Linked DNA regions of Homo sapiens: region 2 is linked to region 1. The links come from fine-mapping of genetic effects on gene expression. Tissue or cell type: whole blood. Region 1 holds a variant in brackets; the other region holds the start of a gene. All regions are shown on one strand. Distances are from middle to middle.

Region 1 (8,201 bases):
TTCAACATTCATTGACTAAGGGCCTACTCTCAGATTCTGTGTGCAACACTCTCTGGGATTACAAATATGAATAAGAAATAGATAGTTGCCCTCCAAGCAGGGCTGGCTTCATGGGCATGCAACCTGTGCAGTCACACAGAGTCCCTTGCTTAGGGGGTCTGATGCTTGGCTTAATGCTCGGATGTTACTGTCTTGAAATTCTTAGATTTTTGAACAAGGGGCCCTGTATTTTCATCTTCACCGGTCCTTGCAGATGATGCAGCTGGTCCTGCCTCAGTAACTTGTTTGAGAAAAACACATTCCATGAACAATACAATAATATGTCATACAATGTAATAATTTTTTTAAAACACAGAAAGAAAATGGCAACAAGTATATAGCAAGCACCATGTTATGAATCCCAGAGGAAGATGTATCTATCTGTGCTTGTGGGAGGTCAAATGTTTTAATTTAGGATGTGTTATTTTAGTGAGAATTTTAGTAGAAATTTATACTTTATAACTGTTTCCATCTTGCCAAGACAATGCAAAGTTGTATTAGTTTGTACTGATTAGGTTAATCCAGCAAAGCCTATAACAGGAAAAGACAGAGATTATGATTTGTTGACTAACTTGACTTCTAATTTGTCACAAACTCTTCTTACTTCCCATCACCTGTCCCATAGACCAAGCTTTTGTATTGGGTAGTGGGGAAAGAATATGATGCAAAGAAGTGTGTGTGTGTGTGTGTGTGTGTGTGTGTGTAAATGTGCACACAAGTAATTCAACTGGGGACATGCAGACATTTGTTCATTAATTGTTTTGCTTTGAGTTGTCAGTGGATTGAGTTGGTAATAAAATAAGCCTATTTTAATTGCCTCAGGTGACTGGATTATTGATGGGGAAGTGCTAGGGGTTAAAAAAAAAAGGTTGAGATTTGGTGCTGGTAGAGATCCATACTTGGCGACAGAACTTTAGGACAGGTAGGGATGAAGATAATGAGAAACTAAAAATAAAATTACTATATATGCTGTAATACAGTAATCCATATTTTGTATTCTAGTAAGTTTCTTTGGTAAGTTAACAACAATGGCCCTCTGTCTTTTCATCAAGTGGATGGATTTTTTAAAGGAAATAATAAAAATGTCAAAGTTGAGCTTTGGAATACCGAAAGTTTCCATTCTTCTCTAAGATGCTTTTTGAAGATGCAGGCATATATATCATCTTTAAAGAATGTTTTAGTGTATTACGCAGGCAATTCTCAAAAATCTTTTATCATAGGAGTTTCCTTTTCATTTTGCCCAATATCACCCAATGATCCCTTTTTAAAAGTTCAGTCTCCTTGTTCTTTATTCCTTCCAAAAAAGAAAAAAAAAAAGAAAGAAAGAAAGAAAAGGAAAGAAAAAGGGGGAAAAAAAGCAGCAAACCCAAAAGGAAGGACTTCTATGACACTTACGAAGGAAGAGTAACATTGCCTTTTATTTTGTTTTCAACTATTTTAAGAAGATCGAGTTTTCACCTTAGCTGTTGTCTACACATCTAGAATTATGTTTGATAAAATAAGGGTAGATTGGATTCTGAAAGAACGGCTAGCTGAGAAGGAAAGGCAGAGCCTTCCTTGGTAATAATTCAATATAATAAAAATGGTGAAGGAGATATTTCAAACCTAGAGACTTAGACAGGAGAAAAGAGATAAAGTCAGACACATTGAACTATTCAGTTTGCCTAACACACATTGAGGTATTCAGTTTAGGCATCATCAAATGCTAAATCAATATTTGCAGGTCCAAGTTAAGTGAGGTGTTTGCAGAGATAAAGTTTTGAGGAGAGAAATATATTGAAAAAAAATTTCTAAACATTCAACATAGATAAATCCTACAGAACATTGTTATCTAACACCAGAGCATGTCTGCAAGGGTAAATTGTTGGAAAATAAAGTAACATGAATAACTCTTACAGTTTTGCATATCAGAAAGATGACTGATTAAAGTATGTGTTTATTTGAATAGGCCAGGAGCATCTGTCTCAGTTTCATAGATAAGCGTGTGCATGTTTGTGGTTTTTTTAGAACCATAGATAAGTGTGTACATGTTTGTGGTTTTTTTAGAACCAAGATGCCCAGAGGGTGGAGCACACAGCTGTGGCTCTGCTACCTTCATCATTGTCACCATCACCGTGATAGATAAACAGGCACTGTACATTCTGGGATGCTGAGCCCCACAAGTGGGAACCTAATAATCAGCTGCCTGAATGTTTACAATTTTTTCAGATGACTGAGGTCACCCTCTCCAGCCTCAATGCCAACCAAGAAATGAACATTCTTTACCACATTCCTTATCTCCAAAATCTTCATGAGGTGGTTGTTTCTTCTCATTACTCCCTGTCTCTGCTGTGAATCTTGGCTTGTGTGACTGCTGTTCTCTCCCTTCTTCACACCAGTTTGCTTCCTTCTGGACGCTCACTGCCTTGATTATTTCAACTCTCCAAAGTGCCAATGACACAAGCCTGGGTGTGTAGCAGACTTTTACTTTGAGGATAATTGCTTTGGATTGAATGTTTCTATCTCCCCCAAACTTATATATTGAAAACCCTAATCTCCAATGTGATGGTTTTTGAAAGTGGGGCCTTTGGGAGGTAATAGGTCATGAAGGTGGGGCTCTCATGCTGGGGTTAGTAGTGTCCTTATAAGAAGAGACAGGAGAGAGCTCACTTCTTCTCTGCTTGTAAGCACCAAGGAAAGACCACTTGAAGACATAACCAGGAAAAAGGCCTTCACCAAAATCCCAACCATCTGGCACCCTAATTTGTACTTTCAGCCTCCAGAACCATGAGAAATAAGTTGTTGTTTGAGCCACCAACTCATTTGAGCCACTGTGGTAATTGGTTACAGCAGCCCAAACTGAGACAGTAATGGAGAGATTACAGGGTGTCACTGAAGAGACAAAATGCGAAATAGAATGTTAATCACCATGCTCTAACATTCATTAACAATTTTCTGTCCTCCCACATTTTTGCCATCTATATGCCCTCCTTAAGTTTTGCCTTGCCTTCATCTTCTTGTCCCTGGTCCCAGTCTACCTGCTAGACTCCAGCCCCAAAATTCTCATTAATTTTTTATGCAATGTAATTTTGCTTTCTGTACCCTACTCTTAACCAGGCATATTGTTGAGCATGTTTTAAGATAAAAGACTTTTTAATGTGGGTGACTACCATTTTACAGCAAAAAATGTTTAAGAATATTTGCTAACCTAAAACAAAACATATGCCAAAAAACTAGCAGAAGTTCTGAAATTTTATTTTTTTCTCTTAACATGATCAAAACCTTAGACAAGATTCCATATCCATTGTTAGAGCATAAGACACAGAGTATTTTTTCTTCCTCTAGAAGCAGAAATTAAACACAAATGATCCTTGTAGTCTTAATGATCACACATTCAAACAAATGTAAATTGGGTAAATAAGAAAATCTATTATATAAAAACTTGAAGCAACTGTATATGTCAGACTTTGTTCTTGAGACTTTCACATGCATTATCTCCTTAATTTTTACAGCAACCTAGTAGTTAGCTTTTAGTCATCTAGGTTTGCATATTGCTAAGGTATCAGGTGGAGTTCAGTTAGAAATATTGATTAATGGGTCACTACATTTCAGGTTTATACTTGGTTTATCAACTTAATAACCTATAGAATTGTATATACTCTGAAATGATCAGGATTTCAGCAATGGTCTCACACTACCTAAATTCACACAAGACCGATATAAAGTCATGTGCCACATGACCTTTTGGTCAATGACAGGGCACATATACGAAGGTGGTCCTACAAGATTATAATGAAGCTGAAAAATTCCTATCACCCAGTGATGTCCTAGCCATTTTTCTAATGTCGTAGTGCAATGCATTACCCACGTGTTTGTGATGATGCTGGTGTAAACAAACCTACTGTGCTGCCCGTCCTATAAAACTATAACACATACAGTAATGTACAGTACATAATACTTGATAATGATAATAACTATATTACTGGTTTATGTATTTACTAAACTATGTTTTTTTTTTTTTTTTGAGACAGAATCTGGCTCTGTCACCCAGACTGCAGTGCAGTGGCACAATCTCAGCTCACTGCAACCTCTGCCTCCCAGGTTCAAGCGATTCTCCTGCCTCAGCCTCCCGAGTAGCTGGAGTTACAGGCATAAACCACCATGCCTGGCTAATTTTTGTATTTTTAGTAGAGATGGGGTTTCACCACTTTTGGCCAGGCTGGTCTTGAAGTCCTGACCTCAGGTGATTCGCCTGCCTAGGCCTCCCAAAGTGAGGGGGTTATAGGCGGGATCCACCATGCCCAGCCTAAACTATGCTTTTGATTGTTATTTTAGAGTGTACTTTGTCTACTTATTGAAAAAAGAAAAAAAAGTGAACTGTAAAACAGCCTCAAGCAGGTCCTTCAGGAGGTATCCAGAAGAAGGCATTGTCATAGGAGATGACAGCTCCATGCGTGTTATTGCTCCTGAAGACCTTCCAGGAGTAGGTAAGATATGGAGGTGGAAGACAGGCATATTGATGACCCTGAACCTGTGTAGGCCTCAGCTAATGTATGTGCTTGTGTCTTAGTTTTTAACAAAAAAGTTTAAAAAGTTAAAAACAACAACAACAACAACAACAACAAAAAAA[AAAC/C]TAGAACAAAGCTTATAGAGTAAGGATATAAAGAAAAAATATTTTTGTACAGCTGTGCAACGTGATTTTTAAGCCAAGTATTACTACAAAAGAGTCAAAAAAATTAAAAACTAAAAAGCTTATAAAGTAAAAAAGTTATAATAAGCTAAAAACTTATTATTAAAGAAAGATTTTGGGGGGTAAATTCGAAATTTGTGTAAATACACTCTATGATGTACACACAATCACGAAATCACCTAACACATTTCTCACAATGTATCCCCTTTGTGAAGGGACAAATGAATTCAGAATGCCAACATTTTAATTCATAATATGACACATCAATTATCATCGGTGTACTTGGGAGTTATGGCCTCTCTCCTGGAATCAAGGTATTTGGGAGTCAGACTATTAATCGGAAAGTTTGAGAGTCAAACCATTAGTCACAAATAGGTAACTGGAAAATAGAAAATAGGAAGTGGTGTTTGGAGATATTCTACTTAAGTTCAGAAAGCTTTGATGAACTATTACTAACCCAGTGTCTCTTCCAAAAAGACATTTTTTCTTTAATTCAGGCCGCCCTCTTTTCCTTGAAATGCATTTTCTTAAGATCAGTTAATATTACTTATTAATATATAAATTAATATATGGGACTGAGAAAGAGTCAATTCCTTAGGCTTCCAGGGTTACCCCCAAATACTGGTTTATACACATCACAGAGGAAATGAAAGGCTCAGATTAAATGACCCAAAGAGTGTCACATAGTTAGCAGGTGCCATAGCTGAGCTCTGCCCTCAGGTTTTCTTTAAACTTAGCGCTTGTGGCTTTTACTAGTCATTGAGAGAGAGCTGCTGTTTAGAGGCTACAGCATCAAGAGCTATTCTAGGGGATAAATGAAGTCAACATGTGTGATGAAATTATTAACATGTACTTAGGACACATATCATTGCCGAATGTGTATGTGCAGTCTGTGCCCTGCTCCCACTCTTGTCAGCGGGAAAGATTGTTGTCCTTTGCATCAGTTTCTGGGCTCCCCTTTGGATCAGAGAACCTTAGTAACAGTCAAGGCAGAGGAAAAAATGAAAGAAAACCAAGTGGCTGAGTTGATTTACACAACAGCTGAGGGAGAGTGTAGAGGGGAAGGAAGAGAGCAAAAGCTTTATGGGGTTGGTGTCAGGGAGAACATATTTTGCTGCAAAGAGGAAAGTGAAGAGAAGAATAAACGACTATAGAGAAGCTTGGATGAGAGAGAATTGTAAAGTAGAAGACTAGGAGTTGAAAAATTATTGCTTTGAGTTGTGAGTTAAATTCTCTTTGCATAACACAAGCAAATAATAGAATTATTTTTCATTACTCATGGTTATTTTACAGGACTGTTTCTTTGAGTGAGACTCCTTGGCAAGGCTTGTTCATGTGGAGTCTCAGGGTTTATTTACATCCTGGCTGGAGGAAAGACACATCATTCCTCAAGACTGATTCATTTGAAGTAGAGGTCGGGCTGGCTTTATGGGGCTTGTGGCCAGCAGGACTGTGCAAGGCCCATGCTCAGAAGGACCTCATGTTTTTCTATTGCAGTCCTGAAATTCTTAATAATCTTATTCCTGAATTTGCGTTGTATAGGTGAAATATGATGGGACATGGAGTGGGGGTGGGAGAATGGGGGAGGCTTGGGCTGGACATACAGGAGGACAGGGTGGGAGGCTGGTGGCAACTGGAGGCAGCTCCGGTGGCAGCCTTTCCAGCACTGGTGAACCTCATGCATTCAGCCTATTGCCTACCCTGATCTAGGGACTGAGCGATTCTGGGTGGAAAGGTTTAAAGATTCTTGGACTCACCTGTCTGCCCTGAGCTGGGCCAGTGGGAAGGGGAGATGCCTAACTCGACTTCTCCAAGGGTGGCTGGTGGGACCTGAGATAGCACACTACATGCCCCATGTCTCTGGACTGGGTCCCCAGCCAGGGCTTTGTAGTGAGGGGTGGAAGTAGGGTGGAGGACGTCTACTCTCTCTGGCAAGTATACCTGTGGCTTGGACTGCTCCAGGGATTGGTTCTGTGTTTTGGGGAGTTCTCTCTTCTTGCTTCCAACCTTCCTGAGTTTGATATGCATTTTCCCTTTCTGGTCAGCTCAGAGGGCCTGCAGGGTTGAGCCAGTAAATATGAACTGGGAAATTTTGGAGATCTCCTACCAGTTAAATGCTCTTATATTTACATTTAAAATTGGCATGGCACAATATGAAGGTGAACGGTAAAATTTATGTTATTAACTTAAAATTTTAATTTTTCTTGACTTAGGATGGCATTAGATAGCAAATAAAAAACATGACAGAGAGGGATCACTAGAAGAAAGGAAAAAGCTTGATATTTTAGTACTTTTAATGGCAACTTTTTCCTGTTTTTTGACCAAGGCGCCTTGGGTTTTCATTTTTCACTGGGACCAACAGATTATGTAGCCAGTCTTAAGCAGGGAAATTTATAAGACATAATTGCCAGAAGTCTGGAGAGAGCTGGCTGAAATGGTTTCAGATTTAAGATGGAAATAGAGTCAATGCACCTTGCTACTGGAAATGGTAGGACTCTTTTGGATGGATAAAATGCTGCAGAGCATAGGACCCTGTCAGATTCTGTAGTAGGGCAGATATTAGCTCAAATTCTGACTTTCCACAGTTTATTAATAAAACTTAATATTTCCTGGCAAATGAACTATTCCATCAACTGTGCCATGGGGTGTTGCTTGAATATAGGAGCCATACGAGTATGCTGGTACTCACTGAATTTTCCCAACACCATTACTTCTTTTCCCACGGTTACACAGAATCACTGGCTCTAATTAGGATGGTGTTTGTGGGATTGTCTGCCGAAACTTGTGTTCCACCTTCCGTAATGTAGCATTGTCACTGAAAAGTGACAGCACAGCTAGGAACTACATCTCTCTGTCCCCTTTGCAGCTAGGTGGGATAATATAATCTGCTGTAATTGAGTAAACATAAGGTGTGCCATTTCTATGAAAGGTTTTTTACTAAGTGATTGTCCTTTTTCTTTTGTGGATCAGGTGCAGAGGAATCCAAGGTGTAGGGAATGAAAGAGCCACAAGATGTAAGAAACCTCAGTTCCTCAATGTAGACATGGAAGAAAGCTTCCGGGAGCAGGCTCACTGGATTTGGTCACATAATGATCACAGAATAAACTCTTGTGGTAAGCCTCTGAATTTGGGATGTTTTGTTAAAACAACTAGATGACCCTAACAGTTTTCACCAAGGTCAGTAATCGACTGATTTAAGTGTTTCAAAAAATCTTTAAACAAATTCAATTGTTGCTTTTAATTTTATAGATAAGGAAATCAAAGTCTTGGAAACTCAATTACTTTCTCAGATAAATGCAAACAGCTGGTAGCAGAGCCAAAGACAGATACCTGGGCTCGTGTCTTCTATTCCAGCTCACTTTCTTCTTTGTTGATGATAAATTTTAAAGGACAAACTTGCTGTGAATATTTATTTATGCCATGCTTTTGGAAGTACTGTTAGGCAGAGAACTACAAAAACATTTCATTCTTAAAAATCCTAATAGAACTAAGC
Region 2 (8,176 bases), 140 kb after region 1:
TGAGGAGTTGTGGGCAGCAGGCTGAGTAAACACCTCTGACGTGGGTCCCATGAAGGGGTCAGGGAAATATCCTGCTTCGGTCGTCCTTCAAAAAGTAACTACTGCATTATCTATTTTTTAATAAGAAATTTAAATATTAAAATATGTTAATGACATTAGTCCAATGTCTACGGATCTCACACCACATAGTCCAAACTTCCTCAGACAGAAATATTTTCACTGTTCAAAAATTCTGCCACACTGGGAAATAAAGGAGTAGACATGGGCTGACATTTGAAAATCTATTACCTGTATTTTTTTTGGTAATAGAATATGATTATAAATCTCAACTTTATTACTGACTTAAACAAGGTCACTAAAGCATTTCACGAAGAGTTCCTGATAATGGGTAACCAGATATCTAGGACTAGATACTATTTAGCAGCTGAAAATGATGGCAGAAAATATATGGGCAGCAATAGAAAAAGAATGTGACTAAACATTTTTAGCAATTTGATATAAAATATTTAGATTTTAAAAAATCTGTATAAATGGATGAATAGGTTGGATTTTACGGAAAAAAATAGGCTCAGTTCAATTAGAGACTGAACTGTAACATGATAAATCAGAATCAATGATGACAAGTTTTATATACTATTTTAATAGCACAGAAAACAAAACCAAAAAAACCTATTACCTATTGGCGAAACGACTGATGGAACATCTAATAACTTTTAAATCAAGTTAAGCCTAAAGCTGCCTCCTTACAAATTTTAAGTTTGGCCTAAAGGTTTCTCAACACACAGTGAATTGTAACCTAACTGCATGTGTAAACAGGCTGTAACCTACTCTTATACCAATCACTGTGTTGCAGCCCATCAAAGGCAGCCAACTGTTCGAACCTTGTTCAAGTAAGGTAAACACCAAGCTGTAACCAATCCAGCTGTTTCTGTACCTCATTTTCTTTTCCTGTAATTTATTTGCTTTTTTTGTCCATAATTCTTTGATCATGTGGCAGCACTGGAGTCTCTTTGAACCTGTTCTGGTTGGGAGAGGGGCACATTTCACAAATTGTTCTTTGCTCATTTTAATTTGTCCAAAGTTTTTCTTTTGACACAATGAACTCTGATTCTGCCAGGTGTTTCTGGGAAAATTGTTTTTCAGAAAAGGCAATGAACATTTTTGATAATTTGCTACTACACGTGTGTCTGGAATTGGTTCCTTCCGGTGGGTTCTTAGTCTGACTTCAAGAATGAAGCCTCAGACCTTCGTGGTGAGTGTTACAGCTCTTCAAGGTGGCATGGACCCAAAAAGTAAGCAACCCTAAGATTTATTGTGAAAAGTGAAATAACAAAGCTTCCACAGCATGGAAGGTGATCCGAGTGGGTTGCCACTGCTGGCTAGGGGCGCCAGCTGTTATTCCCTTATTTGTCCCTGCCCACGTCCTGCTGATTGGTCCATTTTACAGGGTACTGATTGGTCCATTTTACAGAGTGCTGATTGGTGCATTTACAATCCTTTAGCTAGACACAGAGCGCTGACTGGTGTGTTTTTACAGAGTGCTGATTGGTGCACTTATAATCCTTTAGCTAGACAGAAAAGTTCTCCAAGTCCCCACTCGACCCAGGAAGTCCAGCTGGCTTCACCTCTCACAAGCAACGTTATGTTTCTCATCTTCTAACAGAGCGTTCTGTGAAGGTCTGAGATGCTCCTACATTTCTAGTCTCATGGAATCTCGTCTTTTTTCAATCTGAAAACAAAATGGAAATGTTTTTGCCTCAACTTGTTTTTTTTCTTAACCAAATAGGATTCCTTATGGTAAAAATAACTGGGAAAATGGTGGCTCCAACTATGTTTTCACAAAAAATTGTAGCTTAAGTGAAATGCAAATGTTCATAAAGTCATTTTGCTATTACTAAAATAATTTATATACCATTGTGATGATTCACTGATTTAATTAATGAATTCATAAGAAAAGTAAAATCAAAGCCTATGGAATAAGCCTGGAATATTTTGGTATCAGTTTTGCTTGCATATCCACAAATTATAGATGGGGCTGTATTTTGTAAAAAAAAAAAGAACTGTGTCATATCTACAGCATAATGAATAAACGATGTGAACAGAAACTTCACAGAGAAGTATAAGTGCTCAATGAAAATATGAAAAGATTCACCTCATTAGGAATTAGAAAATAAAAAAATGAAAGCAAGGCAATATTATTGACCTATATTTACTTGAATTTATCAACAAAATAACTGGTGAAACTGATAGGATTATAAATCATCAGATTATTGTTTATTTGTAAAAGATAGTTGCTCCTAAAATATTTTCTAAAATAAAGAAGATTATGAAAAATATTAAGAAACCTGAATTGATATTTTGTAACTATATGTTCCCACTTTGGACAGTTTCCATTTTTTTTTAATATTCTGATGTCATTTACATTTTATTTTATAATCATATCCCATAATTGATATCTTAGTTTTACGTTTGAATGGGTTAAAATCTCAATGCCAGTTTTTTTAGTTTTTCATTTTTCCCATATTAATACCTTTATTGCTGAGTTATTTACTTTGATTACTCTTGATTGAGTGGACTTTTTGCCCAAGAAAGATTTTTAAGAAGGGTTCTTGGGTATTGTGTTTTTTGAGTTTTTGCTGATTTAGGAGAATCCTGCCCCACCAGTTTGGCTGTAATATTATGGGATCATGCTTTTGTTCTCAGCCTTTTTTACACACTGCACATTGCCATCAGATGCCACTGAGGAGTCTAAGGCCACTATTGTCATTCCCTTGTTTTTATGCCTGGGTGTGAATATAGTCTTTATCCTTTATGTTTAGCAACTTTACCAGGATACACATTGGTATTCATTGCTCCTTGTCAATTTTTCCTACCAAGGACTCTCCAGCCTCACTTCTCATCACCTCCTTTGCTGGAGGCACACCTGCCTTGCCAACTACTTGCCCTTCTGTGAACTTATTATGCTTCTTCATATCCCTGTGGCTTGTCAGAGGCAAGTGAAATTTCTTCGTGCTCTACTCCCACTCTTGTCATTTACTGCCACCATTCTAGCAGATTTACCTTCTCAGCATCTTCTCACTCCCCAGGTGACACAACCACTTTCCCCTTCCACCCTTGAAATGTAACACAGATCCTTAGTATTACAGGGAATTATCATTCATATTTAAAACTCTCCTACCCAGGACTGTGAGCTCCAAGGAAAGGGACGTGTAACTTACATCCACTTAACGACGCAAGCAATTTAAAGCCAAGAGTTCTTGTTGGCAAGAATTGGGAAAGTTGGACGGACAGTATACAATTACCGAGCAGCCAATAAACAGGAAAAGTCATACAGTTCGAATGTTCTGACCAGGCGGATATTCTGTCTTTAAGAAACACTAATCATATACCTGGGAAAGAAAAAAATCTTGGGCCCCTTCAAACTGGGAATTACTCAGGGCAAATCTGCCTCCTATTCTATCCAAGTCACCTCTTTTGCTGACAAAGAATAGATGCATATTCTGATTGCCTCCTTTAGAAAGACTTATCAGAAACTCAAAAGAATGCTACTGTCTATTACCTACCTGGAAGCCCCCAGTTGGGGGGGGCGGGGCTTGCTTTTAACGGTCTCCGCCTTTCTGGAAGGAACTAATGTACTTTTTACATATTGATTGATGTCTCCTGTCTCCCCAAAATGTATAAAACCAAGCTGTGCCCTGACCACCTTGGGCACATGTCCTCAGGACTTCCTGAGGCTGTGTCACGGGCATGTCCTCAACGTTGGCAAAATAAACTTTCTAAGTTAACTGAGACCTGTCTCAAATTTTCGAGGTTCACATACCGTAGGTAAAAGTGTCAGAAGCCTAAAGGTGAGCCAGTGGAAAAGCCTGAAGACCCCTGCAAGGTTATTAGCTAAGCCTCCATAACGCAGGCGGCAAGTGTCCAGGAGTCTGGCGTCTGCTCGCCTGCACCACGACCTCCCTCCTGGGGAGAAGGACATGCATGGTAAGCCATTTCTCCATTTCCATACTGATTGCTTCCTCTCACCACCACGGCCCATCTGCGAAGCAAAACTAATCCTGGCGTGGAACAGGCCGCCTGAGGGAAACAGCTAGAGCCCGGCGCGGGGCGGAGCTGGTTGTGCGCATGCTCCGTGCAGGCGCAGGCGGGGGCTGAGCGCCGTCGGGTTACGCCTGCGCTCCGGGTGAGCCCGCGCCTGCGCCTTTGCGGCCGTGATTCGGTCCCGCTGTCCTAGGCGGGATGGTGCCGCTGTGCCAGGTAAGGGTGGCGGGTGTGCGTGCGGGCCTGGGTGCGGAGCCCTCCTCGACGTGTCTCTCCCGCCCTTTCCCTCCACATACCCAGCCTTGGTCAGTCGGACCTCCCCACTAGCCCCCAACCTGGCCGGCGTCTTGGGTTCGGGGGCGCCCCCGCCCCCGCCCCCGGGCCCTTCCTGTCTCCGGGCTTTACTGCGACTGCCCCAGCAGAAGTCGGGTCCTCTCCGAGAACTCTTGTCAGCTCACGGCAGCAAGGACGGACTCGTTCTGAAGGCGCCTCCACCTTTTATGACCACCTCTTTCCCAGATTATTCGTTTTGATGAAGCTAAAATTTTAATCTAAAAAGAAATGCACCTCATGGAGAATTCTTGTGAAGAACTGTGCTTCATCTGTGGATTTCTACACCCTTGATCATTTGCAAACCTGTAATTATTTCGTAAAGAGTTGTTTGCACGGAGTGACAGGTGCCTATTTTACTTCGTCGGATCCCTTACATACCAGGCTGCTGGCACAAGTTTGTTCTAGCAAATTCCAGTCTGTCGTGTGTTTCAAACCTACTTGCTTCTGTAAATGTCAGATTTACTATGTTGCATAACTTAATCCTTAGCGTCTGGGGACGATGTTATACAGACCGGAATCTAAGGTCATTTGACAACCGTGAGAAACAGGTTTTTCGCTTATTTATTCATTTATTTTATTTGTGTAACTCATCTCTTGACTCAAACATTTGTTCTTTGCTTACATATTTATAAAAGGTGCTATACTTTTATGTCAATTAAGGCAGGCTTAACATGTTTTCCTAGAAGATAAATACTTAGGATTTTAATGATGGCACACTTAAGTTTGTAAAACTAAAAGGCATCCAGAAATTAGTCTGAATTGTATTTAAAACAACAAGTTTTCAGAATTTGAACTTGTAGGTATACTGAAATTTTTTACGGGTTATTTAATTTTCTTTATAAAATTTGTCTTTGATTAAAGCAATACATTTGGAAAATGAGAAAACTGCTCAACATTGACAGTCAGAAAACGAGTATGAGTTGTTATTAAAAGCATTTTCTTTACTTTCAGGTTGAAGTATTGTATTTTGCAAAAAGTGCTGAAATAACAGGAGTTCGTTCAGAGACCATTTCTGTGCCTCAAGAAATAAAAGCGTTGCAGCTGTGGAAGGAGATAGAAACTCGACATCCTGGGTAGTTAAAAATTTGTAGAATGCATATGAGTAACACTTAGATATTTTCAAAATACATAAATGATAAAAGTAAAAAGGTTAATTTCGATTTCCGTGCTTAATGTCAAAAAGAATCGTTAGTTGTATTTTTTTTGGAACACCTGAAAAACTCTAAATGTGCACCGTATTTTAAGAAAGGTTAAAGATATTTTACCCCAAAACACAGTGAACCGCAGAGGGACATGATTATATTCTCTTTGATAATTTACAAAACACTGCACATGTCACTTCTGCAATTTTATAACATTAAATGAAATTGTTACAAATTCTGTTAAAAATGTGTGCTTTAAACATTTTGTTCTGCCCCTCTCTTTAGAGAGCTCAACATAGAAATTTCTAAGATTGAAAGAAAAATGAGTTACAACAAATCCTAGATGCTGCTGAATTTGAGTTTTTGTAATATTTAATTTTTTTTCTGGTTCTTGAAAAACCTATAATTTTACTTATGTCATTCCCACTTCAAGTTCTTTTTGGAACAAAATATAAAAGTGACTTATTTGAGGGTGATTCAGGAATATTAATGGTGTTACTTAGCTTGTATAGGTGTTTAACCTGGAAGTCCTAGTTCTGTGTAAAAGATACTCCATAATAAGTGTTTAAAAGCAAACCACTTCATGATTTCGTATCTTTTAAGTTGCTCTTACAGTGGCCTGATAATCAATAAAACACAGTGGGGTCTCCCATTCTGCTTTACCTGGAGGGAGACAGCAGGTCTTGTATACGTTTTCACTGTGCCTGAAAAGAAAGCTTACCATTGTTCAGGTATAAAGGAACAGCTAATAAAGCTGTGTTGCAGGTGGCTTTATGACCTATGCTATCTTTTTCATCTTTCTAAGCAACTTAATCCATATTCGAGTAGGATAATGTGTACAGGCATAGTTTGTGGGCAGTTATACTTGTGCTTGAACACATGGATAGAAGGACCCTGGAAAGGCCATGTACTGATTGGAAACTTTTCTTTTGACCTGGTTTGAGTGTTGCCTCCAGTCTGGTGGGTTTTTTGTGCATTTTTTTGTTGTTTAATTCCCCAAGGCATACAACATCCAATAAAGAGTTGACAGCAGTTTAACGTATCTTTGTGGTGTATAAGTATGTTCTTCAGTGGATATGTCCTTTCTCCATATACTATGTGTAAATTTAATTGGTAATTTTGCAGGTGATGCTTTATATAATTATATCTATGTAATATCTCTAATTGCAGCTGAAGCGATTTGAGGTCTATCATAGCGTTGATACTTTGAGTCATATTTTTTCCCCTTTAGATTGGCTGATGTTAGAAATCAGATAATATTTGCTGTTCGTCAAGAATATGTCGAGCTTGGAGATCAGCTCCTCGTGCTTCAGCCTGGAGACGAAATTGCCGTTATCCCCCCCATTAGTGGAGGATAGTGCTTTTGAGCCATCTAGGTATGTGAGATTTGTTTTTCTTAATCAGTCGTGTGGGGAAGGATCATACAGATGATAAAGTGTATGTGGTTTGCTGTTAATGTATATTCTTTGTAAGTCTGTCTGTACCAAATCTTTATTGATGCAGCAACTCTTCATTGGTGCCAACAGATTTATGAATATCTAGCACCATTTCTGCATCAAGTCTATTGTAAGCAGTTTAATTACAATAAACATATCAGTTTGATATGTTTCATTTAACATGGTTTATTGAGATCTTATGTGTCAGGCACAGTGACATATTAATATCCATATTTTGCAGGTAAAAAAACAAATTCAGAAGACTTAAAAAACTTGCCTTTGATCACATAGCTAATCACATAGCTAATAAGTGAAAGAGCCAAATTAAAAAGAATTTATTTAACTTTTAAGTTCAGGGGAACTTGTATCATGGCGGTTTCTTGTACAGATAATTTTGTCACCCAGGTATTAAGTCTAGTGCCCATCAGTTATTTTTTCAATCTTCTCCCTCCTCCCACCCTCCACCCTCAAGTAGGCTCCAGTGTCTATGGTTTCCTTCTTTGTGTCCATGTGTACTCAATATTTATCTCCCACTTGTAAGTGAGAACGTTTGGTATTTGGTTTTCTGTTCCCGCATTAGTTGGCTAAGGATAATGGCCTCTAGCTCCATCCATGTCCCTGCAAAGGACTTGATCTCGTTCTTTCTTATGGCTGCATAGTATTCCATGGTGTATATGTACCACATTTTCTTTATCCAGTCTACCACTGATGGGCATTTAGGTTGATTCCATGTCTTTGCTATTGTGAATAGTGCTGCAGTGAACAGACGTGTGCATGTGTCTTTATGACAGAACGATTATATTTCTCTGGGTATATATTCAGTAATGGGATTGCTGGGTTGAGTGGTATTTCAGTCTCTAGGCCACCCTGTCTTCCACAATGATTGAACTAATTTACACTCCCTGCAGCAGTGTATAAGCATTCCTTTTTCTTCACGTCCTCGCCAGCATCTGTTATTTTAATAATAGCTCTTCTGACTGGTGTGAGATGGTATCTCATTGTGGTTGGGATTTGCATTTCTCTAATAATCAGTGATGTTGAGCTTTCTTTTCATATGATTGTTGGCCACATGTATGTCTTCTTTTGAAAAGTTCCTGTTCATGTCCTTTGCCTACTTTTATTGGGGTTGTTTTTTCTCATAAATTTTAAAAAATTCCTTAGAGATGCTGATGTTAGACATTTGTCAGATGCATAGTTTGCAAAATTTTTCTCCCATTCGGTAGG

The links. PIP is the estimated chance that this variant, and not a neighbour inherited with it, causes the effect.
Region 2: it holds the start of MOCS2, and the variant in region 1 is fine-mapped to the expression of MOCS2 in whole blood (INTERVAL, PIP 0.91).

The regions. Positions count from the first base shown.
Region 1 is chr5:53,247,619-53,255,819 of GRCh38, reverse strand. No RefSeq gene overlaps it. Among named protein-coding and RNA genes, the nearest start is that of MOCS2-DT, 140 kb to the right of the region's middle. The variant AAAC/C (reference allele first, on the strand shown) is at 4,649.
Region 2 is chr5:53,105,793-53,113,968 of GRCh38, reverse strand. MOCS2 (molybdenum cofactor synthesis 2) reads left to right here and starts at 4,212. Exons shown (of 7, transcript NM_004531.5): 1 at 4,212-4,718; 2 at 5,326-5,447; 3 at 6,748-6,892. The coding sequence starts at 6,795. MOCS2-DT (MOCS2 divergent transcript) reads right to left here and starts at 4,127. Exons shown (of 2, transcript NR_104654.1): 1 at 3,821-4,127; 2 at 1-110. RefSeq lists a silencer at 4,184-4,473.